Homo sapiens: one gene and its partners. The protein of the gene in region 4 interacts with the protein of the main gene of each other region in a pairwise test. Each region holds a gene or a part of one and is shown on either strand. Other genes may lie near its edges.

Region 1 (7,027 bases), on a different chromosome or scaffold from region 4:
TAGAGTTCTGAGTAGGGCTGAATTTGAAAAACATGTTTCTGCTATTGAGAAAAGAGATAGGAAACCAATGACTTAGACGAATAAACGACATCCTAATTGTCAACCAAATAGAACACAATGAGCTATTCTTAAAATAAAGGCGGTGTGCTGGTGGAGTCAGATAACTCTGGTTTCAGATTCCATTTCAGCCCCATGCCATTTGAAGAATTTGTTACTCTTTAATTTATCTAAACTTTGGTTTCCTCATCTGCCAAATGGAGATTAATACTATACATTTTGTAGGGTTGTTGGAATGATTAAATGGGATATTTAAACATTTATGGTAATAATTCAGATTTGTAAAAATTCCTTGCAATTCAGATGTGATCATTTCTTTAAGCTCTACAATTATTGCATGAGGTAGGTACTCTTTTAAACTTTCCATCTCTTTTTACTTTTTATTATGCAAATTTTCAAACACATAGAATAATAATATGGTGAATATCTATGTGTCTATCACTGAGTTTCAATAATTATCACATTGTGCCATTCTGGTTTCAATTGCTACCTCCACCCCTCCATTTATAAGTGAAATTACTTTTACAGATAACGTGGCTGAGGTTTGGAGGGGTTAATTTCTTTGCCCAAGCTCCTACAGTTAGGAAGTAGTAGAGTTTCAGAAATGAAACCCAAGACCGCCTTGGCCCTGAGGCAATAATGTCGGCTGTCCTGTCTTAGAATCTGGGGCATCTTTGAATAGTCAAAATAGTTGGGAGTCCCATATACTGAATGATCACACACAGAGTGAAAAGCCAGGGAGCTGTTCTTACTATTTCTAGAATGCCTTCAGGTGCACAAGATATCTCTCAGCTGGTCTTTCTGCTGCTTAATTTGTAGACCTGGTTTTGGTGGTGTTTTCTTGTATTGTGGTAGATAGGTAAGTGCATTCTACAATTCTTTTTGGCCAGAATTTGTTTTTCTTGACTCTGCACCTATTTATCATAGGAACCTAGACATTTCAAATTTGAAAGAGATTTTTGAAGCCATCTTCCGCTGCTCGAATCCCCTCCTTACTGTCCCTGCCAAGTGGTGCACTTGTACCACTTGGTACAGTTTATCAGATGGGGAGCTTACCACTTCCCTTTGCTGCCCCTTCCCTTGCTATGAACCCCCTCAAAATACCTTTTGCTTTCTATCACTGAAATATGTCTCTATCAAACTAATTCCCATTGATCTGGATTCTGCCCTTAGTACTCCAAGCCAAATCTATGTCTTTTTTCTTTCGATACCCCTTTGGATAGTGAAAGACAGCAAGACAGCAACAATATTCCTCCCAGAATGTTTTTGTCTCTATAAGCTAACCACCTCTGGTTTTCTAAGTTTCTCCCCATGTGCCAATTTGGTTAGTTTCCTGTCCACACTGTTGGTCCTTGTGGCAGTGTAACTTTGAAAGCCAAGTACAATAATCCAGGGGTGATCCAATCCATGCAGATTTGATCCTCCCTGTCTGCATTCTGTTTCCTGTTAATGACAACCAATACTACACTCACTTTTTTCCCCAAGTCGACTTTCACTCTGTGGACACATTTTCAATCTCTTAATTCATTCATTCAATTATTCATTCAACAGATATTTATTAAACATCTACTATATGCTAGAACTGTGTGAGAAACTAGGGGGATGGAGCTGTGAACTCCATTAATCCCTGCCTTCCTAGAGCTCACATTCTAGTATAGGAGAAAAAAGAAGCAAGTAAATACAAAAGCTATGATATCTTCAGAATGTGAAAAGAATGGTATTCCCAGTGGAGGAGACCCATAAGAAACACACAAAAATAAACAAGATAATTTCAGTGACAACTGTGATAATGGAAATAGAGCAGAGGGAAGTGATAGGAAGAGCTCCTTTAGTCTGGGTGTCAAGGAAGGCTTCTCTGAGGAGATGTGATTATCTGGGCTGAGACCTGGGTTCTAAGAAGGAGCCAGTCAAGGGAAGTTCTGGAAAGAACATTTGGGCAAAATGGAGAGCAAGGGCCAGGCATGGTGGCTAAAGCCTGCAATCCCAACACTTTGGGAGGCTGAGGTGGGCAGAACGCTTGAGCCCAGGAGTTCAAGACCAGCCTGGGCAACATGGCAAGACCTCATCTCTACAAAAAATACAAAAATTAGCTGGGCATGGTGGCACACACCTGTAGTTCTAGCTACTCGGGAGGGTGAAGCGAAAGGAACACTTGAGCTCAGGAAAGTCGAGGCTGCAATGAGCCAAGATTGCACTACTGCACTCCAGCCTGGGCGACAGAGTGAGACCCTGTCTCAAAACAAAACCAAAAGGAAAAGCAAATGCAAAGACTGTGAGGTGGGAGTGAGCTTTGAGAGGGACAGCGAGACGGGAGAGTCAGGAGGGATGGGGACATGGCCATGGTATAAGTATAACAGAGACAGGCAGGCAAGGCCTCAGGAGGCCTGGAGGATCACTGCGGGGAGTTCAGATTTTATTCCACATGTTATGGAACACTTTTGCAGGTTTTTAGGAAGGGGTGTGACATGAACAGATTCACTAATGTTTGAATCTCTGTCCAGCTTCTGTGTGGAGATGGTTTGTAAGTGTGTGGGAGAGGAAGTGGGAGGCCTCTGGGAAGATACTGTCAGAGTCCAGGGGAGGCCTAATGGTGGCAGTGGCTGGGTAGGAGTGACTGCAGTAGGGATGGAAAAAGTGGAGGATTCAACTGTGTGTTTTAAGATGAGCCAATGGACCTACTCATGATTTGGGTACACAAACAGACACATTGAGGCTCATGCTCTGCTTCACGCACGAGTTCACTTGACAAACAAGGATGGGGGCATGCATCACTATCAATGTGACTGGGGTGTTGAGACCGAACACTGGCAAACTCAAGGTGGGGAGTGTAGGGCCTCAGAGCAAAGGATTCCAACCTGTGGCCCATGGGGTCTCTGAAGTAATTCCCCAAATGCTGAGAGCTGGGAGGATGTCTTTCCGGCAAAAGGGTGTAGAGAAGCTTTCCTCAGATTTTCAAAGAGGTGTTGACCCCTCCAAGAGGAGAAAACACTAGCCAAGAGCATTAGACTCCAAAGATCTCCAGAGCTGGTTTCTAGTCTAAGACATCAGCCTGAGTTCCATGTCTGAGTCTTGTCTTTATCACTCCCATCACCAAGTTTCAAGCTTTCAAAATAATAATGATAATAAAAGAGGCTATGTATTCCAAGCTTGAGCCCCTGGTTGGACGGTGTGCCATTTACAAAGGTGGGGAAGAAATGGGGAGCAATGGGTTTTGGGGGAGAAATCAATAGTTCTGTCTAGTGCTGATTTAACTCCAAAATCTGGTTCAGTTATCTTTTAGTTAGTCTTAAGTTTGGGCTTAGAGAATTGTGGCAAGCCACTTATTCAAGGATTACTTATTCATTCATTCCCCTAATCTCTAAAACTTCAAAGCCTCAGAATGAGGTCTTTGGATTTGCTGTTGACTCCGTTGCCCTAACTACAGAATGACATTTGTTCATTTCTTCATTCATGAATTCATTCAACAAACACAATTGCCTTCGCAGTACCAGGCTGTATGATGGGTCCCAGGGACACAGAGATAAGCAGAACAGAAGCCTTTCCTCAAAGAGCTCCCAGTCTAGTGGGTGGCATGAACACAGATACATCTGACAACAATGACATTCAACAAATATTGCCAGGTGCGGTGGCTTATGCCTATAATCCCAGCACTTTGGGAGGCCGAGGTGGGTGGATCACTTGAGGTCAGGAGTTTTGAGATCAGCCTGGCTAACATGGTAAAACCCTGTCTCTACTAAAAATACAAAAATCAGCTGAGCGTGGTGGCAGGTGCCTATAATCCCAGCTACTCAGGAGGCTGAGGCAGAAGAATTGATTGAACCCAGGAGGCAGAGGTTGCAGTGAGCCGAGATTGTGCCATTGCACTCCAGTCTGGGTAACAAGAGCAAAACTCCGTCTCAAAAAAAAAAAAAAATTAGTATGCACCTATTACTGAAATGTCTGAAAAAAATACAATGGTGGAAAAGCTGGGGACAGTCTCTGACCTCCTTTATGAACTTTCAACATCTTGCAAAAGGCAGATCACAACACACTATAGTAAGTGTTCTGGTGATGAAGTGCCAGTGCCATGGAAGCGCACTGAGGGGACACATGACTGAACATTGTACTTGACTACTGGACTGGGCTTGGTACTTAGGGAAGTCTTCCTCTGAGGGAAGCAATCTGAAGCAGCAACAGATGAGACCCCTGCACTGTGTGATGAAAGATGCGGGTGTAGTCCGCAGGTAGCAGGGATGTCATGATTAATAACTGCAAAGGTTTCCATAGTTATGTCCCCCAGCTAGGTCTTGAGAAGAGAGAAAGAACAGCCTATGGAAAGAGCCCAGCAGCAGGCGCAGGGAAAGATGAGAAGTTACATGGGAGTGAAGTGTAGCATGTGTTAGTGACCGGGAGAAGGTGGCTCGAGCTTGCTGGGTGTGGTTGGCTTCCCTGGATGCTTCCAGGCCCTCTGTCAGCACCCAAGACTTTCCCATTTACCTGTCATAACAAACTTGGTCTGCAGAGTGGAAAGGCTTTGGTGAGCATTATTCCAAGCCAGACTCAGGTAGGGAGATAAATCTACTGAAATAAAAGAAATCTGTTTAAGCATTTTTTGAAAAACAGAAGTGGTTTATTGATTGGCAGCTTTCTGAGGCTATTTGTTGCAAGAAGGAAGAAGGCTTTTTTGCACTTATTTTGGTAAACTTTCACTGTTGGCTTCCATTGGCCAGTTCTCCACACTGGTGAGCAAGTGATATTTGGGAATCCACTCGGCTTCCTTGCTTGAATGGCTCTCCCAACAAACATCTCTTTGTGCTACTGTTATTTAAACAATTAGGTGAACCCGACTTCTCTGGAAAAGTTGCTTGGAATACATAGCCTCTTTTGTTTTTTTTGGTTTTTTTTTTAGCATTATTCTTTAAAAAGCTTGAAACCTGGTGATGGGAGTGATAAAGACAAGACTCAGATACGGAAACTCAGGCTGATGTCTCAGACTAGAAGCCAGCTCTGAAGATCTTTGGAGTCTAATCTCAACTAGTGTTTTCTCCTCTTGGAGGGGTCAATACCTCTTTGAAAATCTGAGAAAAAGCTTCTGTGCAGCTTTTGTCTGAAACACATCCTCACATCTCTCAGTATTTGGGAATGATTTCAGAGACCCCGTGGGCCACAAGTTGGAACCCTTTGCTCTGAGACCCAACCCTTAAGCAAGTGTCTCCCTCTCTCTTTATTTTACTTTATTTTTAAATTTATTTTTATTTTTTAGATGGAGTCTCGCTCTGTCACCCAGGCTGGAGTGCAGTGGCGCGATCTTGGCTCACTGCAACCTCCACCTCCCGGGTTCAAGCAATTCTCCTGCCTCAGCCTCCCAAGTAGCTGAGATTACAGGCATGCACCTCCATGCCTGGCTAATTTTTGTATTTTTAGTAGAGACAGGGTTTCACCATATTAGTCAGTCTGGTCTCGGACTCCTGATCTCAGGTGATCCACCTGGCTTGGCCTCTCAAAGTGCTGGGATTATAGGCGTGAGCCCTTGCACCCAGCCTTTCCCTCTCTTGAGCTTCCCAATGCTGGGTCTCAGCACCCCAGTCCCATTGACACTGATGCACCCCTGTTCTTGTTTGTCAAGTGAGCTAGTGCTGGCAGACACTGGCTCTTCCCTCCTCCAGCCTGCCACACGTCCTGGCAGTCCCCCTTCATGATGGCCTTTGGTGCCTTGCCTCCCTGCTCGTCTCTCCTCTGCCACCCTCACCACATCTCTTCTCACTGCATTGGGTGCCTTTCCCTCCAGGATGCCCTCCACCCTTCACCAATTTCATCTTCTGAAGCAGGTCAACAGCACTGCTCAGACATCTCTCATGGCTCGCCTTGTCCTCTGGCCCCTTGGGCCTGGTTTTCAGGGGTCTCTGTAGTGGCCCTGCCTCCATCTCTAGATGCACGTCTTGCTGGTCTCCTGCACATGCTCTATAAACCAACAAGAGCTACCAGCAGGTGCATGTCACCTTGCCTTTGCTCATGTTATTCCACTACCAGGAATGCCCTTCTCCCATATCTCTGTCTATCTAAATCTTATCCATCCTTAAGGACCTAGAATAAGTGTGTTGTCCTCTGAATTCTTTGTTGCTCACATCATTCAACATTTTTCTTTCTCTTTTTCCCACATTCCTCTTTTTAATTGAAATAAACAACTATGTCCCACCTCTTTCCTAAGTGTTTTAAGGTGGCCCAGATAACAAAAAATAAGGAGACAGGTGGATTAGAGTTCCAGCACACTTTCTAGCTGTAAGCAAGTTCCCCAAACTTTCTGTGCCCTATTTTCCTCATCTGAAAAAATGGGAAAAGTCACAGCGACTATTTCAAGGGATTACTATGGAAGCAAATGAAATGATATATGTAGAGCTCACACAGCACTGGGAATAAGAGAAGGACTCGATGTTCATCATCATCATCACCATTCCACCATCATCATTGTCATTATCATGGATAAAATAACAGGACATGATTGATATGGGACAAGGAGATATATATGCCAGGAAACTTAGGCTGAAGGGAAACTGCTCAACTGATAACAGCATCTGGTTTGAGATTCTTGGCAGCCAGGGCATAAAGGGAGATCATAGCATTCGGTTTTCATAACTCATATTGTCTTCTAAGAGAAAGCAGAAGGGGTCATCATAAGAGACAAATGCTTCCCCAGCTCTGAGAGCTACATGGGATAGATCTTTTGAGGACGATAGAATGGAAGAATCTGTTTAAAATCAGCTCTCTTCTTGACCATTGGCCAGAGGGAAGGACACAGCCCCTTAATCGGGGCTATCAGCCCAGTTCCAGTGTGGGATTCTGATGAGGTGGTGGGCACCTGGCACATATCGTGTGCTGCCTTGTGGCAACAATTCCTCTTCCGCTACTGCACTATGGGCTTCTTAAGGGCAAGGTCTGTGTCTTACTCATCTTTGTCTCCCCAGTGCCCAGCTGAGTTCCTGGCACTTGGTGG
Region 2 (7,637 bases), on a different chromosome or scaffold from region 4:
ACGGTACACTGTGGCATATTCATGCAATGTAATACTATGCAGCAGAAAATGAATAATATGCCATAATGTTTAGCAAAAAGTGACAATTGTGGAAGGGTACAAATCCAATATGTAATAAAGTTCAAAAAGGCAAAACCAAAGAATATATACATATAAGGTAAAATGAGTTTTTAGAAAAACACATAAGGGAATGATTTTTTTGGGGGGGATAGAGTCTCGCCCCACCTCCCAGGTTCAAGCAATTCTCATGTCTCAGCCTTCCACGCAGCTGAAAATACAAGCGTGCACCAACAAGCCAGGCTAATTTTTGTATTTTTTATAGAGACGGGATTTCGCCATGTCAGCCAGGCTGGTCTCGAACTGCTGGCCTCAAACTCCTGGTCTCAAACCCCTGGTCTCAACTCCTGGCCGCCTCTGCCTCCCAAAATGCTGGGATTCCAGGTGTGAGCCACTGTGCCTGGCCTACAAGGGAATGATTAACCACTTCTGGAGATGGGAGGAGGGGTAAGTTTGCGGGTTACCAAGAGGCTACAAGGTACTGCTAATGTTAATGTGCCATGTTTTAAGCGGTCTGTAATGGTTACATCGGTGTTTATCAGTGTAATTTTAACTCTAAATGTGTATTATTTACAATTTTTTGTATGCATGACGTATTTGATGTACATTTGAAAACATACACACATGGCCGGCCACGGTGGCTCACGCCTGTAATTCTAGCACTTTGGGAGGCCGAGGCAGGTGGATCACGAGGTCAGGAGTTCAAGATCAGCCTGGCCAGGATGGTGAAATCCCATCTCTACTAAAAATACAAAAATTAGCTGACGCAGTGGCAGGCACCTGTAATCCCAGCTACTCAGGAAGTTGAGGCAGGAGAATCGCTTGAATCCAGGCAGGCGGCAGAGGTTGTAGTGAGCCGAGATCGCGCCACTGCACTCCAGCCTGGGTGACAGAGTAAGACTCCTTCTCAAAAAGAAAAAAAAAATACACACACATACATGCACATGCACAGAAAAGATCTCTAAGTCATATCTCCTGGCATTGGATATTGTTCTAACAAGGGCCCAAATGTCCACATTTGTAATACAAATGAAGCAACAGAGAGGATTTCAGTAGGCAGTTGATTGAATGACAGGACTTGCGTGCCTTCCTACCTCTTGCGGCGTGACCCTGGAGTATTTGTGCTTCCTGTAGGGCTGATAGTCGACCATGTGGGAGCTTTGGTATATGTCTAAATCCACAGGGTCCTAAAGCACAAGGAGAATATAAAACAAGAGATTCCCTCGTCACTCCTCCACTTAAAGCCATTCAATGGCTTCTTGCTGTTTGTAGGACAAAGGCCGACTTTGGGGCCTGACATTCAGAGCCCAAATGATCTGGCTGTGACCCATTTTTACCATCCCGCCACCTTCCTGCCTTCTCTACTCCAGCCTTACTTCCTCCCACTTGCATGGGCCTGGCATGTGCTCTTTCCTATCTCCTGATGGAAATGCAAGTTGCCCTCCTCACAGACTAGCAAACTCCTACCTATCCTCCAAGACCCAGACTAAATGTCACTTCCCCAAAACATCTCTCCCACCCTTTTATTCTCCACCTCCCAAGAGTTAAACCCTTTCCTTGTTCCTTACAACCCTCCACAACAGCACTTGCAGGGTGTACTGTGATGGATTTAATGAAGTACACTAGAGCAGGTTTAGTGTACTTAGACATCTCTGCAGTCCCAAAGCCCAGGACAGGGCCTGGCACACTGTGGGTGCCTAATAAGTGCATGCTGAGTAAATAACTGAACCCCCAGAAAATTATAAAGAAGAAAACTCAGTTCTCTTCTTCTTCTTGTACCAAAAAAAAAAAAAACCCACAAAACCCAAAACTATCATTACAGAAAGATGAGCTTCTAGAAAGAGCCTGGCCCTTCCAGGGCCTTGCTGAGGCTACCCAACCCTGAGACCGTCACAGGGGACAGAAACCCACATCACTCACCTGTCCCGGGTATTTCACACCTGCCATGGCAAACGACCTAGACACAGACAAGTTGTTTAGCCCTGCTCTGCCACAGACAAGGAAAGTAGCCACTATCTTCAAGCTGTGCCAACCAAGCATGGCTGCCCCAGCTTTCTTAGCCCACTCCTCCCCATCTTCCCTGGGCTCCTACCCTGCATGTCACTCCATCATCAAGGGGTTGGTGGTGATACCAGGGTCCCTGGGACAAAGGGGCTGGAGCAGGACTCAGGAGGAATGAGGGCTGTTTAGAAGATCACATTTACTGATCAGGTTTACTGTTTGAGAGGTATAGCTGATCCTAGGGCAAGTGAAGTGCTGGTAAATGTTTAACAACCATGTTTTCAGGGAAAATAGGCCCTGGGTTTATAGCATCTGCCAATTTCTGTGGTGTAAATGCTCCTATCATGGCTCATTTCAGGCTATCAACATAATGTCATTGGCACTGAGTTGCACAGATATGCACAGGATGGGCTCTTGTGAGCCAGTATGAACTGGCTCCAGCTCACATGTTCCTCTGAACCAGGCCTCAGCACTTCCCCTGGATAGAGGAAGGCCCAGGCCTAGGACTCAGAGCCACCTTGATTCACAGGGGAGTATCCAAGGTGAAGAAAGTTGCAAGACTCTGCATTCCCAGTTGAACAACAGTAGTTTGTAGGCCTAACACTGACCCCTCCCTTCCAGCCCTGAAGTCCTAGCGAGGGCCTCGCTGCACAGACTCCTTGTGTGCGTGGCCCCTAGATCCTTAAGGGGTACTCCACTGCATTCCCAGGGAACCCTCCCCTAAGCCCCACTCTCTTCAGCAGACTGTGGCCCAGCAGGGTGGTGCCCAGACCTCAACCAACACCTGTATCCCCTCCCTTTTGCTCACAGACAGCTTCTCTCCTAGGGCTGGGGACCAGCTGCCACGCAGACAGAGCCTACCGCTTCTTCTGCCAGGGCAAGACGACGCTCCTGCCCTCCCACCTCCAGGTGCCCTTGCCACATGGAGAGTCCTGTTGCTGTGTCCCACTGCCACGCCTGTCTTTGAGTTGAGCCCTGACCTGTATGATGAGGGTCCCTGTCATTGTGAGGTGAGTAGGTGGCTGCTTGGGCTGCCTGCAGGTCAGTTCCCTGTCCCTGGCTCACCAGAGCCAACATGAATCCTGGCAGCACATGAACCAATGCTTTCCGATACTCTACAGAATCTTCCTAGTCCTAGGAGAGGAAGGTAAATAGAGCCCATGTGGTTTACAACATCAGACTGTGTGTGACTAAATCCACTTCACACCACAGACTGCCACCCAGGCCTCTGCTGCCTGAAAGCCTGGCTCAAAATTGTCAAAATGTCACTTTTTGACATTCATAGTGTGTGGCTACAATAAAAAAAAAATACAGAAACAAGCGTTGATGAGGATGTGGAGAAATTCCACTTCTAGTTATAAATAAAAAAGAATTGAAAGCAAGGGCTCAAATGGATACCTGTACACCAACGTTCACAACAGCATGGTTCACAATAGTCAAAAGGTAGAAACAACTTACATGTCCTTCAGAGATGAATGGATTTGGTATCTACGTACAATGGAATATTATTCAGCCTTAAAAGGGAGGCCAGGCACGGTGGCTCACGCTGGTAATCCCAGCAACTTGGGAGGCCGAGGCAGGCAGTTTGCCTGAGGTCAGAAGTTCCAGACCAGCCTGACTAACATGGTGAAACCCCGTCTCTACTAAAAATACAAAAATTAGCCGGGTGTGGTGGTGCACGCCTGTAGTCCCAGCTACTCGGGAGGCTGAGGCAGAAGAATTGCTTCAACTCGGGAGGCAGAGGTTGCAGTGAGCCGAGATCACACCACTGCACTCCAGCCTGTGTAACAGAGCGACACTCTGTCTCAAAACAAAATTAAAAAAAAAAAAAAAAAGGGAAGGCAATTCTGACACGTGCTACAGCATGGATAAACCTTGAGGACATTATGCTAAGCAAAATAAAGCAAAATAAGCCGGTCACAAAAAGAAAAATGCTGCATGATTCCACTTCTGCGAGGTACCTAGAGAAGTACAATTCATAGAGACAGAAAGTAGAATGATAGTTGCCAGAGACTGAGGAGAGGAATGGGGAGTTACTGTTTAATGGATATGAAGTTTCTGTTTCAGAATATTAAAAAAAGTTCTGGGAATGGATGGTGGTGATGGTTGCCCATTGTGAATGTACTTAATGCCACTGAATTATTCACTTAAAAGTGACTAAAATGATAAACTTTGTTATATATATGAAATTGTATATATATTTGTATTTTATATATTTTATGTAATTATATACAAATATGTATATTTAATTTTATATATAATATTAAACATATATGTTACATATATTATATATATAATTTTAATAATCCACCTTCTTTAAGGGACACCTCCTCTATAAAGCTTTCCTTTATCTCACTAGGTGCCACCATAGACTCATTTATCCAACCAATATTTACTGAGCACTTCTTTTGTGTTTGGGCATTGTTCTGAACTTTATAGATTCAAGAACAAAAATAGATGGAAATCTCTGCTTACATTCTGGTGAGATGAAAACACAGAGCAAACACAATAATAAGCAGGTCACCCTCCCTTAGATAGAGCAAATAAGCCAGGCGATGCACAAGAGGATGACTAGTGGGCACTTCAGATGGGAGGTCCAAGGAGGTCTCTCTGAGAGGGTGATGTTATAGTAGAGATCTGAAGCATGGGAAAGAACCAGCCATGCAAAGATCTGAGAATAAGGGGTTCTAGACACAGCAATCAGCTAGTGCAAAGCCTAAAGGCAGGAACCACTGAGAACAAGAATCACCAGCCATGTGCCTAGAAAGGAGTGAATGATGGGCAAGGTCAAGAGATTGAGTTGGCTGGGAATCTCTGGCATTCCTCTTCTTTAATGGAATGCCAACTTCCCCTCAGATAATTATTTCCTGCCTTTCTTTGAGTGTGTCCACAGAATTAATGTGTTAGAAATTTGGTCCCCAGCATGGCAGTGTTGGGAGGTGAGGCCTTTAAGATTTGATGAGGTGGTTAAGAGGGATTAATGCCACTCTCTTGGGACTGCGCTAATTCTCACCATAGTGAGTGAGTTATCACTCTCTCAGGACTGGATTAGTTAACCCAAGAGCCAGTTGTTGTAAAGTGAGGCCGCCCCTCATGTTTCGCCACTTTTGCGTGTACTCGCTTGCCCTCCCACTTTTGTACCACGTTATGATACAGTATGAAAAGGCCTTGCCAGAAGCTGCTGTCATGCCCTTGAACTTCCTAACCTCCAAAACTGTGAGCCAAATAAACTTCTGGGTTTTGTTGTTGTTGTTGTTTATTGAGATGGAGTCTTGCTCTGTTGCCCAGGCTGAAGTGTGCAGTGACGTGATCTTAGTTCACTGCAACCTCCACCTCTTGGGTTCAAGCAATCCTCCCACCTCAGCCTCCTGAGTAACTAGGAGTATTGGCATGCACCACCATGCCGAAGTAACTTTTTTTGTATTTTTAGTAGAGATAAGGTTTCACCACATTGGCCAGGCTGGTCTGGAACTCCTGAACTCAAGTCATCTGCCCGCCTCGGCCTCCCAAAGTGCTAGGATTACAGGCGTGAGCCACCAGGCCCAGCCTTAAACTTTTTTTTTTTTTTTTTTTTTTTTTTTTTTTTACAAATTATCTAGTCTGTGGTATTCTGTTACAGCAACAAAAAATGAACTAAGACACTCCCCTTTGGGGATCACATGGCATGGGTGGTGCTGATCCTACTCCAACTCTAAATGGGCATGTTGCCACCAGAACATTCCACTCTCTAGGCCACAGTGATTGATTCAGGGGGAGGCTCATGATCCAAGCTGGACTGATGAGTGCCATCCCTAGCTCTTGGGAAGGAAGAGCTGAAACAGCAGGCACTAAGAACCATGTGAGCCTGAGGCTGCCTGAAGCCACTGTGTAGAGAAAGCCAGGCCAATAATAAAATCAGCACAAAGACAAGACTATCCCAGAGATAGAAACAGCAACAGCATTTTGACTAACACTGAGCCCCTGGATATAACCATGCCTGAAGCAAGCTTGATCTACATCTACACTTCGCAGTTTATGTGAGCCAGTACATTCCTTTTCTTGCTAAAGCCAATTTCAGTTGAGTTTCTGTAACTGCCAGCTGAAACAATACCTACAAATTCAAGGTTGGAGTGCTCACATAGTTATTTCTCCTAACTAACTGTGGGATTCTTGAGGGAAAGAGCTGGATCTTACTTTTTATTCCTCAGTGCACCAACACTTAAGCATGGGGATTTAAGAAGTGCTTGTGAATTAAATAAAACTGAAAGAGATGGCAAAGGCTAAGGCAAAGAACAGAGTGGCCACAGGGATAAGAGTGGAGGAGACAGCTGGGGCATAAGTGATTTTTGTGCCCCAAGTATGTATTTTTCAGAAAAATATTACCAAGTACATTTTTGGAGTCCTGAATTCAAATTCTGATACTTGCTATCCTCATGTCTTTGGGTAAATCATCTAAGATTAATAAAAGGCAGTTTGATCATCTGTAAAACAGAGGTAACACCTACCTGAAAAGAGTGTAGGAAGTCAACAGATATGTCTGTGAAAGTGCTTGGTGTTCTTCAAACCAATATTTGCCCCCATATTTTTTGAGTTCCTGCTGTATCTCAGGCATTGTGCAAGGGCCTGGAATTATGGTAACGAAATAAAATAGAAATGGTCTCTGTCCTTACGAAGTTACAGTACGATGGGAGATAAATATGCAAATAATCACACAAGTGAGTCTTTCATTACAATTTTGACAAGTGCCATGAAAAAATGTGGAGTATCGGAGGTTGATCCAGTCTTGGAATCTGGTCAGAGAAAACTTGCCTCAAGTAATGACATTTTAACTCAGTTCTAAAGGGGAAGGAGACTTCTGTTCACTGCCCTAGGGCAGGAAATAGACTTCCCACGTGTAGGAGAGAGCCTGCTCTGCTGCAGCAGAGCCAGGAGGGACAAGGGCAGCTCCAGATGAGGCTGGAGAGGAGATACTACCTCATCACGCACGTATGGGAAGAACTTTGACTTTATCCATTGTAGGCCACTGGATGATGATGATGATGGCTGGGACAGTTGGATGAGATGGCAGTAGATATGGAGAGAAGTGAGTAGGTTCAAGGGACGTTAGGAAAGTAGACCGCATAGGATTTAATCATTATCAGAAAGAGGCAGTGGCAAGACAGAGTAGGGTCAAAAAGATTCCCAGATTTCTCAAATAAGCCATTGGAGCTTGATGGTCCTTTGATGAGGTGGGAAAGGCAGGAGGAGGCATTGGTTTGGGAAGTGCTATGGTTTGAATATTGTCCCCTCCAAAACTCATGTTGAAATTTAATCTATGTGGCAGCATTGAGAGGTGGGGACTTTACAAGGTGACTGGGTCATGAGGGCTCTTCATGAATTAATGAATTAATGGGTTAATGGATTAATGGGTTATCATGGGAGGGCAACTGGTGTCTTTATAAGAAGAAAAGAGACCTGAGCTAGCACGTCAGCATGCTCAGCCCCTCACCAGGTGATGCTCTGCTCTGCTCTGGGACTCTGAAGGGTCCCCACCAGCAAGAAAGCCGTCACCAGATATGGCCCCTTGACCTTGTACTTCACAGCCTTTATAACCATGAGAA
Region 3 (7,613 bases), on a different chromosome or scaffold from region 4:
ATGAAAGATCTACTCTGAACTATAATACTAAATATAGGCAAAGTTAACATTTTGGAAGTACTTCATTTCCACCTTTAAGATGGGCTTAAATTATTTGAAGGTCTCTAGGAAGAAAACATTAATTCATTGGCAATTTACAACCTACTGAAATACCTAAGCTACTCAACTTTAACGTCTATTAAATCACCTTGCCATAAGCTAGCCAAAACTCACTGCTCAGCAACAAACATGACTACATACCTGAGAAGAACTGAACAATTTCTTCCTTGCTACATCCAAAGGGAAGTCCTCTAAGCCGTACAAAGCCATCATTGGCCGTGTCAGGACTATTTGGACCAGTATGCTTCAACACCCAATCCATTTCAACGTTGTTTGACTTGAATACTGAAAGAGGTGCTTAGAATTAGTCACTTTTGGAAAATTAGATAACAAAGTTCAGACTTCCTGGGTCTTTAGATAAGCTAGGAAGAGCTGCCACAAACTCCCTTAGATGACCATTTCCATGCAGTCAAATACCTAAAATTCAGAAGGGGTGAGACCTCTATTGTTTAATGCTTTATTTACTGTAACTAGGGCAATGTAAATCAAACCTTCAACATATCTGTGTCCCATAGTTTCTCTGTCTTTTTTCAGGGCCAATTTGACTTCATCTTCTGATTCAAGTTCAACAAAAGCCTCGCCACTTGGTCTGCCTTCTCTGGTGTAGATGAAACGAATACCTTGAGCCCCATTTTGAATTTTGCAGTCTGGAAAGAAAACAACCGTTAATACAGAATTTAAAACCTAAAACCACCTCTGGGTGACACAGATGAAATGTCTATTCCATGTCCCCACTACAAATTACATAACTTGTGAAGCCTATATATACTGACCACGATATTACCAACTCCTAAAACTCCAATTAAAAAAAAACAAACTCATTCCTAAGGTGATATATTTCCAACCCATCAACAACATACAATATTCAAAGCAGTTTCAGAATGAATTTATCTCTTTAGTCCTTGCTACTCATGTCTACATCACACATCTTTTATCAATTTCTCAGAAGATTATCAAGCCTGGACTGTGTGACTTTACGGCAAACATACTTCGTTGCGAGCTGTTTTGGTCTGGGGCATTTATCCGTTTTACCTTACCAGTAGCCACATTACGGTTTCTCATTCAAATTCAAATTACAAGCCCAATACTCACCTGAAAGGGGATCAGTGTTACCAAGCTAAAATGCTCCAAGTTGCACAGCTGAAGCCAAACCCAGTGTTGCCCCCTGCAAGGCGGCTTCCAGCGTACTTGGTTCTTGTTTTACAGGTCGCTTTCCGTTACCAACGCTAAATTCAGATAGTAAGTCAATACTACAAACGTCTTGCCAAAAGCTGTTAATTTCATCCAAATAGAATTTTAATCAGTCTAATTTCTTTTTCCCAGTCTAATAATAGGAACAAGGACATTCTGATAGAAAATATTCAGGAAACCTATGTACTGCAAAAACACTTCCCTGGGCTTCAGTGTCTTCAACTGTATAGTGAGCCAGATTAAGAACTAGATAAGAAAACACTCTTCAATTATCAAATCTTGATTAGGAAAACTGAAATTAAGACGTGACATTTTAACTTTCCGAAGAATGCTCCTTTTTAAGAAAACACCAAAACTGGAAACAAGAGGTTACACTTCAAGATATTGCAAAACATTACTATTATTTGTCTAATCACTCGGCCATTTTCTCAAGATTGAGGAGGAAATCCCACCTATGCCAATTTATCCTTTCGAAAAAAGACACCCGGGCCAGGCGCGGTGGCTCACGCCTGTAATCCCAGCATTTTGGGAAACCGAGGTGGGCGGATCACTTGAGGTCAGATGTTCGAGACCAGCCTGGCCAAAATAGTGAAACCCCGTCTCTACTAAAAATACAAAAATTAGCCGGGCGTGGCGGTGCGCGCCTCTAGTCCCAGACACTCGGGAGACTGAGGCAGGAGAATCGCTTGAACCCAGGAGGCGGAGGTTGCAGTGAGCCGAGAACGCGCCACTGCACTCCAGCTTGGGTGACAGAGACTCCAACTCAAAAGAAAAAGAAAAAAAGACACCCATAAAAGAAAAGCTGGTGTTCAAAGATAGGTAAAGAAAACAAAGTCTGCCAAACCTGCCGCACTCCCCCAAGGGCCAGGAGGACGGGCGGGGCTTTCGAAATTTCCATTGCGTAACAGCGGGCCGCCGGGCGCGAGCAGCACAGCGGTGAGTGTAGTCGCCCGCGCCTCGCCAGGGGGCGCCCCGGGTCCCACCCGGCCCGGCCCGGCCCGGCCCGCCCCGCCCCGCCCCGCCCCAGCCCGGCCGCCCGCCAGCCCGCCCGCCCCGGCCTCGAACTCGAACTCCCGCGTCCTAGTTCTAACTCACCAGAAAAAAACCTCTGCACTTCATCGGCCGAGCAAGACCAGGGCAAGCCCCGGACCTTCACCACGAATCCCTCTCCACCTTCCGTGCCCAACATCATCGTCTCTTACGCGGTCCGGCGTCGAAACAAACTGCAAAGCGGGGAGGACCAGAACTGAGAGCGCCAATTAAGCTGTCCTTCGCCTCCGAGGCGCGCCCGGGCCCGCACCGCCCCCCCACGGAGCAAAAACCGGGCGGATGCACCCACCCCGGCGACTCCAACACCTCCTCGTCCGGCGACCGGACCCCCAAAGCTGTCCTGAGCAACAGCTGTCGGCGCCCCGAACCGTGGGGGCCCGGGCCGAGAGCCAGCGTAGAGGAAAGGAAATGGCGGCGGCCGCTTCCGCTCCGCCTCCTCCGACTTCTCACACAATAGAGTCGGCGCGGCCTGCAGGCCTCAGCGGCGGTGCCGAGATTCAGCGAACCACTCGCGGCTCTCGACGGCAGCCTGCAGCTCGCCAAGGTCCCCGTGGCCCTCCCAGAGATATGGGGACAAACAATCCTCGCAAAAACGGTACCCACCGTGGTCGCTGAACTGCAAGCGAGGACCCACCGCGACTCACCTAGACACGCGACTTCTGCGTGGCTAAGACGAAATGGCCAGCGGGCGCCTGCGCAACCTAAATAAGGTCCCTTGTGCGAGTTCTGCGCACGCGCAGCCAGCTGCCCGCACCGCCCCGTTGCGTCACAAAGAGCTCTGGCGCATGCGTAATTTCAAGAGCCAGCCCACCTCCCGCCGGCGGATTATTACACGCTTGGGTTTTGGGCTCAGCACCCCCACCCATAAACCCGCCGGGCTTTTTGTTGCGCCTGCGCCTTCCCGCGAATATTGAACTTCGGAGTCCTAGCGGTTTATAATTATTTCATGCGCATGCGTCTTCCTTGAAACCGTTCTCTAGCCTTACCCGCCAGCGTGGGGGAGGGGAATGGCGGCCGCCTGTTCCCTATGGGACTGTATAGGAGTCCCGAGCTCTGGGTTGTGATGAGGTGGGCGTCTTTCTACCCCTTGCCCCCAGGCTCTTACCGGCGCGCTCCTGGCCGACCTGAAAGGAGGGGCGCGGCCTTCAGGCGTTCCCACTCCCCGCGCCGCCTGTCTTCCCTTTATCCCCAAACCGGCCGAAGCTGGTCAGCTGCAGATTGTCGAACGTCCTGGGAGCTGCGGGGCTGCGGACGTCCCGCGCCCGAAGCCACCCGTATGGTGCCTGGGGCACGTCCCAGCCCTGTGTGCCTCCACTTCCCCTTACCTGCCGTCGTCGGGCCTAGGGCCCCGGTCGGCGCGAGGTTTCCGTGCCTGTGGCTCGCGCCTGTACCCAGCTTTTGCCTAACGAATTCGCACCCTGTGTACCCCTTGACCCGCCTAACGGTCGGCAGGCCTTGACTGCCCTGGGGCCCTGGCACGAGGAGGGATCGCGAGCGCGGGCTCCACGGGTGCGCGCCGGCCTCTGCGCTCGGTAGGTTACCGCTGCATCTCCCAGAGCAGAATTGGTAAGAGTGCGTCCATTCACCAGGCGTAGACGCTGCATTCGAGGAGGCCCCCGGGTCACCCCATGTGCACACATGCTGCGAGATGACTAATGTTCGTGGTTTCTAGCAGCACTGCCCAAAACCTAAGATGCCGTAGCCTCCCAGGCCTCCCCATGTCTGATTTGGCTGCCTTCCTCACCCCAGCTTTAGTGGACACAGACAATACACAAATTAACAATAAGGTAGTGCTGGACCCTGCCGCAGAGCTACCTTAGCTAGTGCAAGCCTGAGTGCCACCCTGGGAAGATGCGGACAAAGCATGTTTCCAACCCCAGTGCCACAGAGTCCGAATCCAGTTTTGACAGGTTTGAGAAAAAGTAGAGAGGACATCAAAAGAAAGACAGGAGCCCAGAGCTAAGCAGGGCCTGATCTTCAAAGGCCACTTAGGCCTTGGCAAGGGTGTTATCTCCGAGAGAAGGCTTTGGCAGGTGATCAGCAGGGGAGCCGTAAACCCTGTGTAAAGGAAAACTCTTGCTGGATGTGAGGGGGATGCAGATGGAGCAGGCAGGGTGAATGACGGTACATACCAGGCCCTCTACTACAAACTGAACTAGAAGCACACACCTGTGGTACCATTTCAGAAGGCACTTTGGCTGAGGTAATCAAGAAGAGAGTCCGGCCAGGTGCGGTGGCTCACTCGTGTAATACCAGCATTTTGGGAGGCCGAGGCAGGCAGATCACTTGAGATCAGGAGTTTCAGACCAGCTTGGCCAACATGGTGAAACCCCATCTCTACTAAAGATACAAAAATTATCTATGCATGCACACGCCTGTAATCCCAGCTACTCTGGAGGCTGAGGCAGGAGAATCACCTGAACCCAGGAGGCAGAGGAAGCAGTGAGCTGAGATCACACCACTGCCCTCCAGCCTGGGCTACAAAGACTCCCTCTCAAAAAAAAAAAAAAAAAAAAATTAGCCAGGCATGGTGATGCATGCCTGTAATCCCAACCACTTGGCAAGACTGAGGCAGGAGAATCACTTAAACCCAGGAGGCAGCAGTTGCAGTCAGCTGAGATCACGCCATTGCACTCCAGCCTGGGCAATAAGAGCAAAACTCCGTCTCAAAAAAAAAAAAAAAAAGAATAGTAGTAAGGTAGAATACATTTCATACACTTATAGCCAATTCTCTTATATATAAATTGTCCAACTTATATTAAAACAAGGTTTTTAAATTTTTATTTTTTATTTGTTTGTTTGAGACACAGCCCGTCACCCAGGCTGGAGTGCAGTGGTGCAAACATGGCTCACCACAGCCTCTACCTTCTGGGCTCAAACAATCCTCCTGCCTCAGCCTCCTGAGTAGGTAGGACCACAGGCATGTGCCACCTTGCTCAGATTATTTATTTATTTATTTATTTATTTATTTATTTTTTGTAGCAATGGGGTCTCATTTTGTTGCCCAGGCTGGTCTTGAATTCTTGGGCTCAAGGAATCATTCCACCTCAGCCTCGCAGAGAAAGTGCTGGGATTACAGGTGTGAGCCACCATGGCTGGCAATGAAAGGTTTTTTTGTTTGGTTTTGTTTTTGAGACAGTCTAACTCTGTCACCCAGGCTGGAGTACAGTGGTGCAATCTTGGCTCACTGCAACCTCTGCCTCCTAGGTTCAAGCAATTCTCATGCCTTAGCCTCCCAAGTAGAGGGATTACAGGTGTGTGCCACCACACCTGGCTACTTTTTTTTAAGTTTTAGTTGAGATGGGGTTTTGCCATGTTGGCCAGGCTGGTCTGGAACTCCTGACCTCAAGTGATCTGCCTGCCTCGGCCTCCCAAAGTACTGAGATTACAAGCATGAGCCACCATGCTCGGCCAAAGGTTTTTTTAAATAAAAAGTTAATCATCAGCCCACGCGTGGGGCTCATGCCTGTAATCCCAGCACTTTGGGAGGCCGAGGCAGGTGGATCAAGAGTTCAGGAGTTAGAGACCAGCCTGACCAACATGGTGAAACCCCGTCTCTACTAAAAATACAAAAAGTAGCCGGGCATGGTGTCGCGTGCCTGTAATCCCAGCTACTCAGGAGGCTGAGGCAGGAGAATCACTTGAACCTGGGAGGTGGAGGTTGCAGTGAGCAGAGATTGCACCACTGCACTCCTGCCTGGGCAACAGAGCAGGACTCTGTCTTTAAAAAAAAAAAAAAAAATTCATCATCTTGCCTCAGTGGTCTTTATGTCTTGGTATACTTCTTTTTTTTTTTTTTTTTGAGACGGAGTCTCGCTCTGTCGCCCAGGCTGGAGTACAATGGCGCGATCTCCGCTCACTGCAAGCTCCGCCTCCCAGGTTCACACCATTCTCCTGCCTCAGCCTCCCGAGTAGAGTAGCTGGGACGACAGGCGCCCGCCACCACGCCCAGCTAATTTTCTTGTATTTTTACTAGAGACGGGGTTTCACCGTGTTAGCCAGGATGGTCTCGATCTCCTAACCTCATGATCCGCCCACCTCGGGCTCCCAAAGTGCTGGGATTATAGGTGTGAGCCACTGCGCCCGGCTAATGTCTTCGTATACTTCTTACAGTTTACAGAGCTCTTTATTAAGGCTGTTAGCCCTTAGGATAGTTGCCCCAGACATTCTTCTCAGTTTGCTTACCTTTTAATTATTTTTGTGGTTTTGTGGTGGTATTTTTTGTTTGTTTTACAGACAATGTCTTGTTCCGTGCAGTGACACAATCATAACTCACTGCAGCCTTGAACTCCTGGGCTCAAGCCATCCTCCAAGCTCAGCCTCCTGAGTAGCTGGGACTAAAGGCACTTTCAACCAGGCCCGACTAATTTTTTTTTTTTTTGTAGTGATGGGGGTCTCACTATGTTGCCCAGGCTAGTCTTGAATTCCTGGCGTCAAGCAATTCTCCCACCTTGGCCTCTCAAAGCCCTGGGATTATTCTACATGTGAGCCATGATGCTCGGCCCTGATTTATGCCTTTTTTTTTTTTAAGACAGGGTCTCACTTCGTCACTCAGGTTGGAGTGCAGGTATGTGATCTCGGCTCACTGCAACCTCCACCTCCCGGGTTCAAGCAATTCTTGTGCCTCAATCTCCCAAATTGCTGGGATATGCCAGGTGCAATGGCTCACACTTGTAATCCCAGCACTTTGGGAGGCTGAGGTGGGTGGATAACTTGATGTCAGGAGTTTCAGACATGTTGGCCAACATGGTGAAACCCTGTCTCTACCAAAAATACAAAAATTAGCCGGGCATGGTGGTGGGCGCCTGTAATCCCAGCTACTTGGGAGGCTGAGGCAGGAGAATCACTTGAACCCAGGATGTGGAGGTTGCAGTGAGCAGAGATCCTGCCACTGTACTCCAGCCTGGGCAACAGAGGGAGATTCCATTGCAAAAAAAAAAAAAGGAAAAAAATACCAAATAGCTGTGATTACAGGCATGCACCATCACACCCGGCTAATTTTTGTATTTTTAGTAGAGATGGGGTTTCACCATGTTGGCCAGGTTGATCTGGAACTCCGAACCTCAAGTGATCCATCCACCTTAGCCTCCCAAAGTGCTGTGATTACAGGTGTGAGCCACTGCACCCGGCCTATGATTGCTTTTTAATATTTGGACATATAGAAGTTTTAAATTTCTTGATGTCAAAGCCATGGATATGTTCCTTTGAGGTTTGTCTTTAAGTTTAGAAAGCCCTTTCCCATCCAGAGATTGAGCACATATTTGTTATCTTTA
Region 4 (7,490 bases):
CATCTTGTACACATACTTTATTTTACAACTAAGGAAAACAGAGGCCCCAAAATGAAAGATTTCTGCAGAACCATTCAGCTAGTTGAAGGCAGGGCCTAAATCAATGATTTGAATACCTGTATGACATAGGGGAATGGACCTACAACAATGGGAATGTATAGAAGGCCGGGTGTGGTGGCTCACACCTGTAATCCCAACATTTTGGGAGGCTGAGGTGGGTGAATCACCTGAGGTCAGGAGTTCGAGACCAGCCTGGCCAACCTGGTGAAACCCCCTCTCTACTAAAAATAAGAAAAATTAGCTGGGCATGGTGGCAGACGCCTGTAATCCCATCTACTCAGGAAGCTGAGGCAGGAGAATCCCTTGAACCCAGAGGTGGAGGTGGAGGTGGAGGTTGCAGTGAGCCGAGATCGTGCCATTGCACTCCAGCCTGGGCAAAAAAAAAAAAAAGAGAATGTATAGAAAGAAAATAAAATACAAGAAGTGAAAAAAGGATTCTCGGAGGGATAACTCTCAGCTGCCAATTTGTACCCCCAAGGACCTAACCACTCTTTCCTCTGCACACCCCTGCGAAGTCCCTACACACTGCTCCATTTCCAAATATCACTATCTTTAGCCAGTTTGAAGGCAACCAACAGATAATAGGCCCCAGGAGTAAATGAGGGAAAGGGACGGGGGTCTCACTATTAACTAGGATTGACAGAAATGATAAATGAATACATACACACACACACACACACACACACACACACACCAAGTAGAACCTGCTCACCAGCACCTACATCCAGTCTTCCCTCCTTATCATCCAATATTAGCTCACCTCACCTGAAGTCTCCCACATTCCTGTCTTTTTTGCCATGGCCCTGAGCTTTTACTTCTCACAATCCCTCTGCCTGACAGAGTTCTAATGGAAAATAAAAGCAGGCAAACAAAACAAAAGAATTCAAAAATAAACACCAAGAGGGTCACTTTACCTAAATCAACAGAAGTAACAGGGTAAACTCTGCAAAGGAGACCAAGAAGCATACAACAAACATGCTAGGCTTAAGTACAGCTCTGTCCCTAACACAGGAAGTCAGGCAGAGGCTTGAAAAGCAGGGAGCAGAGCACAGGAAGTCTTTTAGCACTGCAGAGATTTCCAAGAGTGGTGTAATGGAGACAGCACAGGAATAGGAATTAGAAGACCAGGCTTCTAGTTCTAGTTTTACTATTAGCTAACTGGGTGGCCTTACCCAAGTCACCATCTTCTCTGGACTTCTGATTCCCCATCTATAAAATAAGGTGGTTAAAACAAGCTGGGACTTGAATCTCCTCCAAAAAAAACAAAGATGAAAACTATTGACTCTCCTCCACCAAAAAGTGCACATCACCTACTATGAGTAAGAATCTTCCAAGTCTTCCCAGGTTAAGAACCCCTGGAAAAGATGATGTCTAGTCCTCCTAGCATCCCTCTAACATCCTATGACTCCGAGAGAATTAGGCACAAGTCTGCACAACTGTTGGTAGGTGAGACTCATCATGTCATAGCAGTATTTTCTGGGCAAAGACCAAATCGTAAAACCTCCAAAGGTTTCAAGGTCTTCTTCAAAACTATGAAGTCAGCTGACATCAATACCTTTCCCATTCCCTACCCAAATTAACCACGTTTATCTTTCAATCCAGAATTGAGAATCCAGTCTTCTAATAGCCCTATAAAAAAATTTTTTTTATAGCCCGGGACATTAAAGAGCTATTTTGTGTCCTGGTGATGTAGAATGCAATTGGCAAAGAACAGGAGGGACATGTCTAGTGTCTCCCTTCAGACTCATTAGTATGCTCCACAAAGTAAATGAGACTGAGCACCACCGTGTCCCCATAACATTACCAAACTCCTTGTACTTCTCACACTCTGTGTGATTTAACCCACAATCTCAGCCACATCCCCTCGGGGCTCTCTCGAGGAGTTTTCTTTTCACTCCTCTCATTGAAATGCCACTTCTCTTCCCCATCCCAGCGTGTGCCCAGGGCTGCCAAAAGGTACTCCCTCTTCTCGGGAGGTTTCCCACCAGATCTCCTTTTCCTCGACTCAGTCCAGAGAAGCCAGGATTTCCCGGCTTCCACTCCACCCCAAGGCACTAAGGAAGGATTTGAAAAAATGGAATCCATCTCAACCTTGTTCGATTTCCCCCCAAAACCTATCCACTCGTCGTGCCTCCTGGCCCCTCAGGAATCAGGACCCTCTCGGGCACACCAGGTTCAGTCCTGCAACCTTCGTTCCTAGCCCGAGCTCGCCCCACCTTCCAACCAGGCCCCGAATGGCCCCCCATCCCACCTCCAACCCAGGACTCCCGGAGGCCCTCCCTCTCTCCAAGCCGGGGAGCCCGGTGTCGACCCTCACGCCCACCCCCGCAATAACTGGGCGCCCCGTCCCGCGCGGTCACCTGCATCCCGCCGCCACCGTCGGCCGCCGCCTCCTCAGTGCGCGGCCGCTTGCTCAGGCCGGGATCGGCTCCGTCTCCTCCCGCTCCGGGCACCGGCAGCTCCAGCTCCGACTCCCGCTTCATGCCCCGGGCGGCGGCGCCGGGCCCGAGCTGAGGCGGCTGATGCGGCTGGGCGCCCTCCGCCATCCGCCCGCGCCCCCCTCGCCTCCGGGAGCCGGGCGACCCGCGACAGGCCACCTCCCCCTGGGCCTCGGCCCCGACTGTCGCGACAGGCGGGCGCGCGCCTGCCCCCGCCCCCGCGTGCGTGCGTGCGTGCGCGCGAGCGGACTCCGCGCCCCTCCGCGCCTCGCGGCCGCCGCTCCTTGCCTGACCGCTTGCTCCCCGCCCGCCCGCCCGCCGGGTTGTCGGCGCGGGGCCACTGGCGGGTCGTGATGAGCACTCGCTCGCGCCCCCGCACGCACACGCGAAACCCGGCCCGGCCCGCCGCGCCGCCCCGCCTCTCGCACTCCCGGAGCTCGCCCACCGGCCGCGCTGGCTCACACTCTCCCTCACAGCACGCCGGCCGAGGGAGGAAGGGGGCGGTCCGGGCTCCCGAGGCGTGGGGAGGGCTGTTTATTTTGGGGGGAGGAGGGGCGCGAGGCAGGAACGAGCTGACTGGCCGGGATCCTCCGACCCGCCACTGTGGCAGCACCGGGAAGGCGGGGAGAGAGAAAGAGGGAGGGAGGGAGGGACCGGGATGTAGAACTCCAGCCCGCGCGGGAGGCTACGGCGAGGGGGGCGGTGGCGGCCCGCGGGGGGGGCGGGGCCAGGCCCCCTCGGCAATCTCCGTAGTCTCCTCGCTGGCTGCCCGAGGGAGGCCGGGAAGCGATCGGGGAAGCTCGGGAATCTCCGGCACGGGCCTGGGATTGTCCTGGAGGCACAGCGCGGCTGGAGTGCGGGGCAGCGCGGGGGGGGCGGGGTCTGTCTCCTTTCTGGGCGGGGCCGTATCCTGGAGCAGGCGGGGCTTGAGAGACCCGAAGGCCAGGGAGTGGCTCCTGCTTGCGGTACTAGTTGTACAGAGTTAAGTCCTGAGTTTACTCGCCTGAGCACCTTGGTTCCCGGAGAGGGAATGGGCACTCTGTGAGAGGCAGGCTATTTGCCTGCTTCCCCTCCCGCAGAAGAAAAAATGTCTCAAATTGGAAGGTCGAGGAATGAAGCCACCCCTCTATGGTTCACCCCAGTTCTGAGAGCTTTTACTCTAATATAACTCACATTCCTAATGAAGTTAGTAATAATACCCGATGTTTGTAAGAGCTTTAGAGTTTGCACAATGCATCCACAGACCCGTTTCAAACTGGTGATATAAGTAGATACCATGATCTCCATTTCATTGATGATGAAACTGAACCTTAGTTAAATCCTGCAGCAAAAAAGTGGCAGATCCGGAATTCAGAACACGAGAACATATTCTCTTTCTTCGTACCTTGCTGCCTGAGGAGCACTTTATGACTTACCAACTTCGTGGAGATAGAGATATCTGTGCAATAGATTCTCTCCCCTACCAGACTGTGAGGACAAGGACTGCAGTGACTTCCTCTGAGTTCCATATCGTGCCCTGTACGTTATAGAAATAAAAGGATATTGCGTGAATAACCTGGATTCTAATCTTGGCTTTGCTAACTAGCTTAAACAAGTTACTTCATCTCTTTGGACCTCAGCTCCATCATTTGTAAAATGAGATGGTTTGGATCAGTGGCTTTCAACCAAGGAGAAATTTTGCCATTCCACCACCTCCACTCCCACATTTGTCAGTGACTGAAGGCATTTTTTTTTTTTTTTTTTTTTTTTTTTTTGAGACAGAGTCTCGCTCTGTCGCCCAGGCTTAAGTGCAGTGGCGCGATCTCGGCTGACTGCAACCTCTGCCTCCTGGGTTCAAGCGATTCTCCTGCCTCAGCCTCCCCAGTAGCTGGGACTACAGGTGTGCGCCACCAACTAATTTTTGTATTTTTAGTAGAGATGGGGTTTCACCATGTTGGCCAGGCTGGTCTCGAACTCCTGACTTCAGGTGATCCGCCTGCCTCGGCCTCCCAAAGTGCTGAGATTACAGGAGTTAGCTGCCGCGCCTGGCCGACTGAAGGCATTTTTGATTGTTACAGTGGGGAGGTGCTGCTGGCATCTAGTGTGTAGAAGCCAGGAATGTTGCTTGACATCCTATCATGCACAGGACGGTCCCCCCAGGAGAGTTATCCAACCCCAAATGTCAATAGTGCGGAGGTTGAGAAACGCTGGGTTAGATGATTTCCAAGGTCATTTCCAACCAGTGTGTGATTTGGCCTTTGAACCTGGGTTTAACCTGGCTGGGGCTGGAACAGTACAACAGTAAAGATCCCTGCTTCAGAGTCAGACCAACCCAGATGAGAACGCAGGCTTCCCACCTCCTGCCCACGTAATCTGGGACCAGTGGTGACTAAGAACTTCCATATAAAAGGTGTTTGGGGATTGCAGACTGGTTGGAAGGGAAGTCGGGAGGACTTGCCTTGAAGGTGAGTTGTTGTATTGAGCATATTGTTTGTATTACTTAGGCTGTGTTATAAATCAGTAAAAATAGCAGAGTTTTAGCTCTGCCACCTGCAAGTCATGATGCCTTGTGACAGCTACTTACCCCCTCTGTGTCTCAGTTTCTTCATCTGCAAATTAGGATAACAATAATACCTTCCTGAAAAGATTATTGTAAGAATTTAATGTTATCACGTTTAGAACTTTGAACGGAATGATTTAGGATAAGCGCTCCATAAGTGTTACAGCTAACACTTATAGCTAACTAATAATAGCTTATTAGTAGTACCATTATCACTTTATTCACTTTTTTTTTTTCAGATGGAGTCTCGCTCTGTCACCCAGACTGGAGTGCAGTGGTGTGATCTCGGCTCACTGCAACCTCCACCTCCTGGGTTCAAGCAATTCTTGTGCCTCAACTTCCCAAGGAGCTGTGATTACAGGCGCCCACCACCACGCCCGGCTAATTTTTTGTATTTTTAGTAGAGACAGGGTTTCACCATGTTGGCCAGGCTGGTCTCGAACTCCTGACCTCAAGTGATTCCCCCCCTTTGGCCTCCCGAAGTACTGGGATTACAGGCATGAACCACCAGGCCTGACCTTTATTCACATTTTAAATGAGAGTGAAAAAACATTCATTGTCAAGATCAAAGAATATCATTATCATTATTATTGGGTTTTTTTTAATTATGTAAGGTGACTTGAGTGGGGCTGCTAGAGATTCACATGCGGCAAGCAAAGCACCCCAGTAACCCCTTGGTGCAACCACTATGCTGGGCAAATTACTTTGTTTCACTAAGCCTTCCATTCCTCATTTGTAGGATAACAATAATAGTCACAGTGTTGTTCTAAGGATTAAATGGGACAAAAGTAAACACTTAGCACAGTGCCTAACATAGTAACTGCTTAATAGGTGGTAATTATTCATCAACTAATTTGGTTAGTGATACAGTAAGCTTAACCAGGGGCCTTGGAAAGAGAAGCCTTAAACAACTTCTTCTTCTTCTTCTTCTTTCTTCTTTCTTCTTTCTTCTTTCTTCTTTCTTCTTTCTTCTTCTTTCTTCTTCTTCTTCTTCTTTTTTTTGAGACAGGATCTCACTGTCTCCCAGGCTGGAGTGCAGTGGCCCAATCTCAGCTCACTGCAACCCCCGCCTCCCAGATTCAAGCGATTCTCCTGCCTCAGCCTGCCAAGTAGCTGGGATTAGAGTCACGCACCACCATGCCCAGCTAACTTTGTGTATTTTTAGCAGAGACAGGGTTTCACCATGTTGGTCAGGCTGGTCTCAAACTCTTGGCCTCAACTGATCCTCCCGCCTCAGCCTCCCAAAGTGCTGGGATTACAGGCGTGAGCCACCACGCCCAGCCCTGACACATCTCTTAGTATTATTATTTGGACCACCAAGGTGGAAGTCCAAGTGCCTACAAGCTTGTTCTTGTGCTGAATTAGCCCCAACCTAAGTCAGCGGTTTCCACTTGGCAGTACCCCACAACCTGATCCTGTTCAACCAAGCAGTATGGCTTTGAGGGATAACCAGGATATTTCCTGGTGGCCTATGAAACAACAGCGGGTTTTGTCTTTTTTTTTTTTTTCTTTAACCTAGGGACATCAGCAGTTGGTCTTCTGAAATTTTTACTTATTGAACTGGTAGCATAAGAATTCTCCCTTCCCAACTGGGCATGGTGGCTCACACCTGTAATCCCAGCACTTTAGGAGGCCGAAGCGGGCAGATCACTTGAGGTCAGGAGTTCAAGACCAGACTGGGCAAAATGGTGAAACCCCATTTCTACTAAAAATACAAAAAATTTAGCCAGGTGTGGTGACAGCTGCCTGTAATCCCAGCTACTCAAGAGGCTGAGCCAGTAGAATTGCTTGAATCTGGAAGGCAGAGGTTGCAGTGAGCCGATATCGCGCCACTGCATTCCAGCCTGGGCTACAGAGTGAGACTCTCTCTCCAAAAAAAGAGAATTCTCCCTTCCCTGCTTGCCTTGCCAAACTACTGAAATCTTAATGATGTTAGATCTTCCTGGGCTGTCCCCTGACCCAGCAAGAAATGAGATTTGAGATCGGGGCTGCCAGTGACTCAAATTTTTGTTATTCAGGTAACGCTCAAGTCCCTTAGAAACAGAGCAATGCAGTATAGAAATGTCTGAATGACCAGGCAGAACAAAGAAAAATTGGACCCTGCCCTGGAAACAAGCATTATGTATTTAAGGAGAAAGAGGAGAGTTAAACGCCTACAAATCATAGAAGAGGCAAAATGCATCCATGGCAGCACAAAGACCAGATCATTTCTTTTCTTTTTTTTTTCTTTTTTTTTTTTTTTTGAGACAGAGTCTTGCTCCGTTGCGCAGGCTGGAGTGCAGTGGTGCAATCTTGGCTGACTGCAAGCTCCGCCTCTCGGGTTCACGCCGTTCTCCTGCCTCAGCCTCCCGAGTAGCTGGGACTACAGGCGTCTACCACCACACCCGGCTAATTTTTTGTATTTTTAGTAGAGACAGGGTTTCACCATGTTAGCCAGGATGGTCTTGATCTCC

The links.
Region 1: the proteins of RBFOX2 (region 4) and C1orf94 interact in binary tests that used the Homo sapiens proteins (3 or more experiments, as listed by UniProt).
Region 2: the proteins of RBFOX2 (region 4) and SPMIP9 interact in binary tests that used the Homo sapiens proteins (3 or more experiments, as listed by UniProt).
Region 3: the proteins of RBFOX2 (region 4) and HNRNPH1 interact in binary tests that used the Homo sapiens proteins (3 or more experiments, as listed by UniProt).

The regions. Positions count from the first base shown.
Region 1 is NC_000001.11:34,179,902-34,186,928, forward strand, and holds part of C1orf94 (uncharacterized protein C1orf94), read left to right. Parts: intron 1-7,027.
Region 2 is NC_000002.12:88,520,012-88,527,648, reverse strand, and holds the start of SPMIP9 (protein SPMIP9), read right to left. Parts: upstream 3,001-7,637; 5' UTR 2,867-3,000; exon of another isoform or gene 2,843-2,866; intron 2,240-2,842; exon of another isoform or gene 2,150-2,239; intron 2,015-2,149; 5' UTR 2,005-2,014; coding exon 1,978-2,004; intron 1,245-1,977; coding exon 1,152-1,244; intron 1-1,151. UniProt on the Homo sapiens protein: Microtubule inner protein (MIP) part of the dynein-decorated doublet microtubules (DMTs) in flagella axoneme.
Region 3 is NC_000005.10:179,620,652-179,628,264, forward strand, and holds the start of HNRNPH1 (heterogeneous nuclear ribonucleoprotein H), read right to left. Parts: upstream 3,021-7,613; 5' UTR 2,944-3,020; intron 2,751-2,943; exon of another isoform or gene 2,630-2,750; intron 2,537-2,629; exon of another isoform or gene 2,514-2,536; 5' UTR 2,483-2,513; coding exon 2,386-2,482; intron 1,326-2,385; exon of another isoform or gene 1,192-1,325; intron 747-1,191; coding exon 591-746; intron 385-590; coding exon 241-384; intron 1-240. UniProt on the Homo sapiens protein: This protein is a component of the heterogeneous nuclear ribonucleoprotein (hnRNP) complexes which provide the substrate for the processing events that pre-mRNAs undergo before becoming functional, translatable mRNAs in the cytoplasm.
Region 4 is NC_000022.11:36,025,820-36,033,309, forward strand, and holds the start of RBFOX2 (RNA binding protein fox-1 homolog 2), read right to left. Parts: upstream 3,006-7,490; 5' UTR 2,607-3,005; coding exon 2,421-2,606; intron 1,265-2,420; exon of another isoform or gene 1,245-1,264; coding exon of another isoform or gene 1,233-1,244; intron 1-1,232. UniProt on the Homo sapiens protein: RNA-binding protein that regulates alternative splicing events by binding to 5'-UGCAUGU-3' elements. Prevents binding of U2AF2 to the 3'-splice site.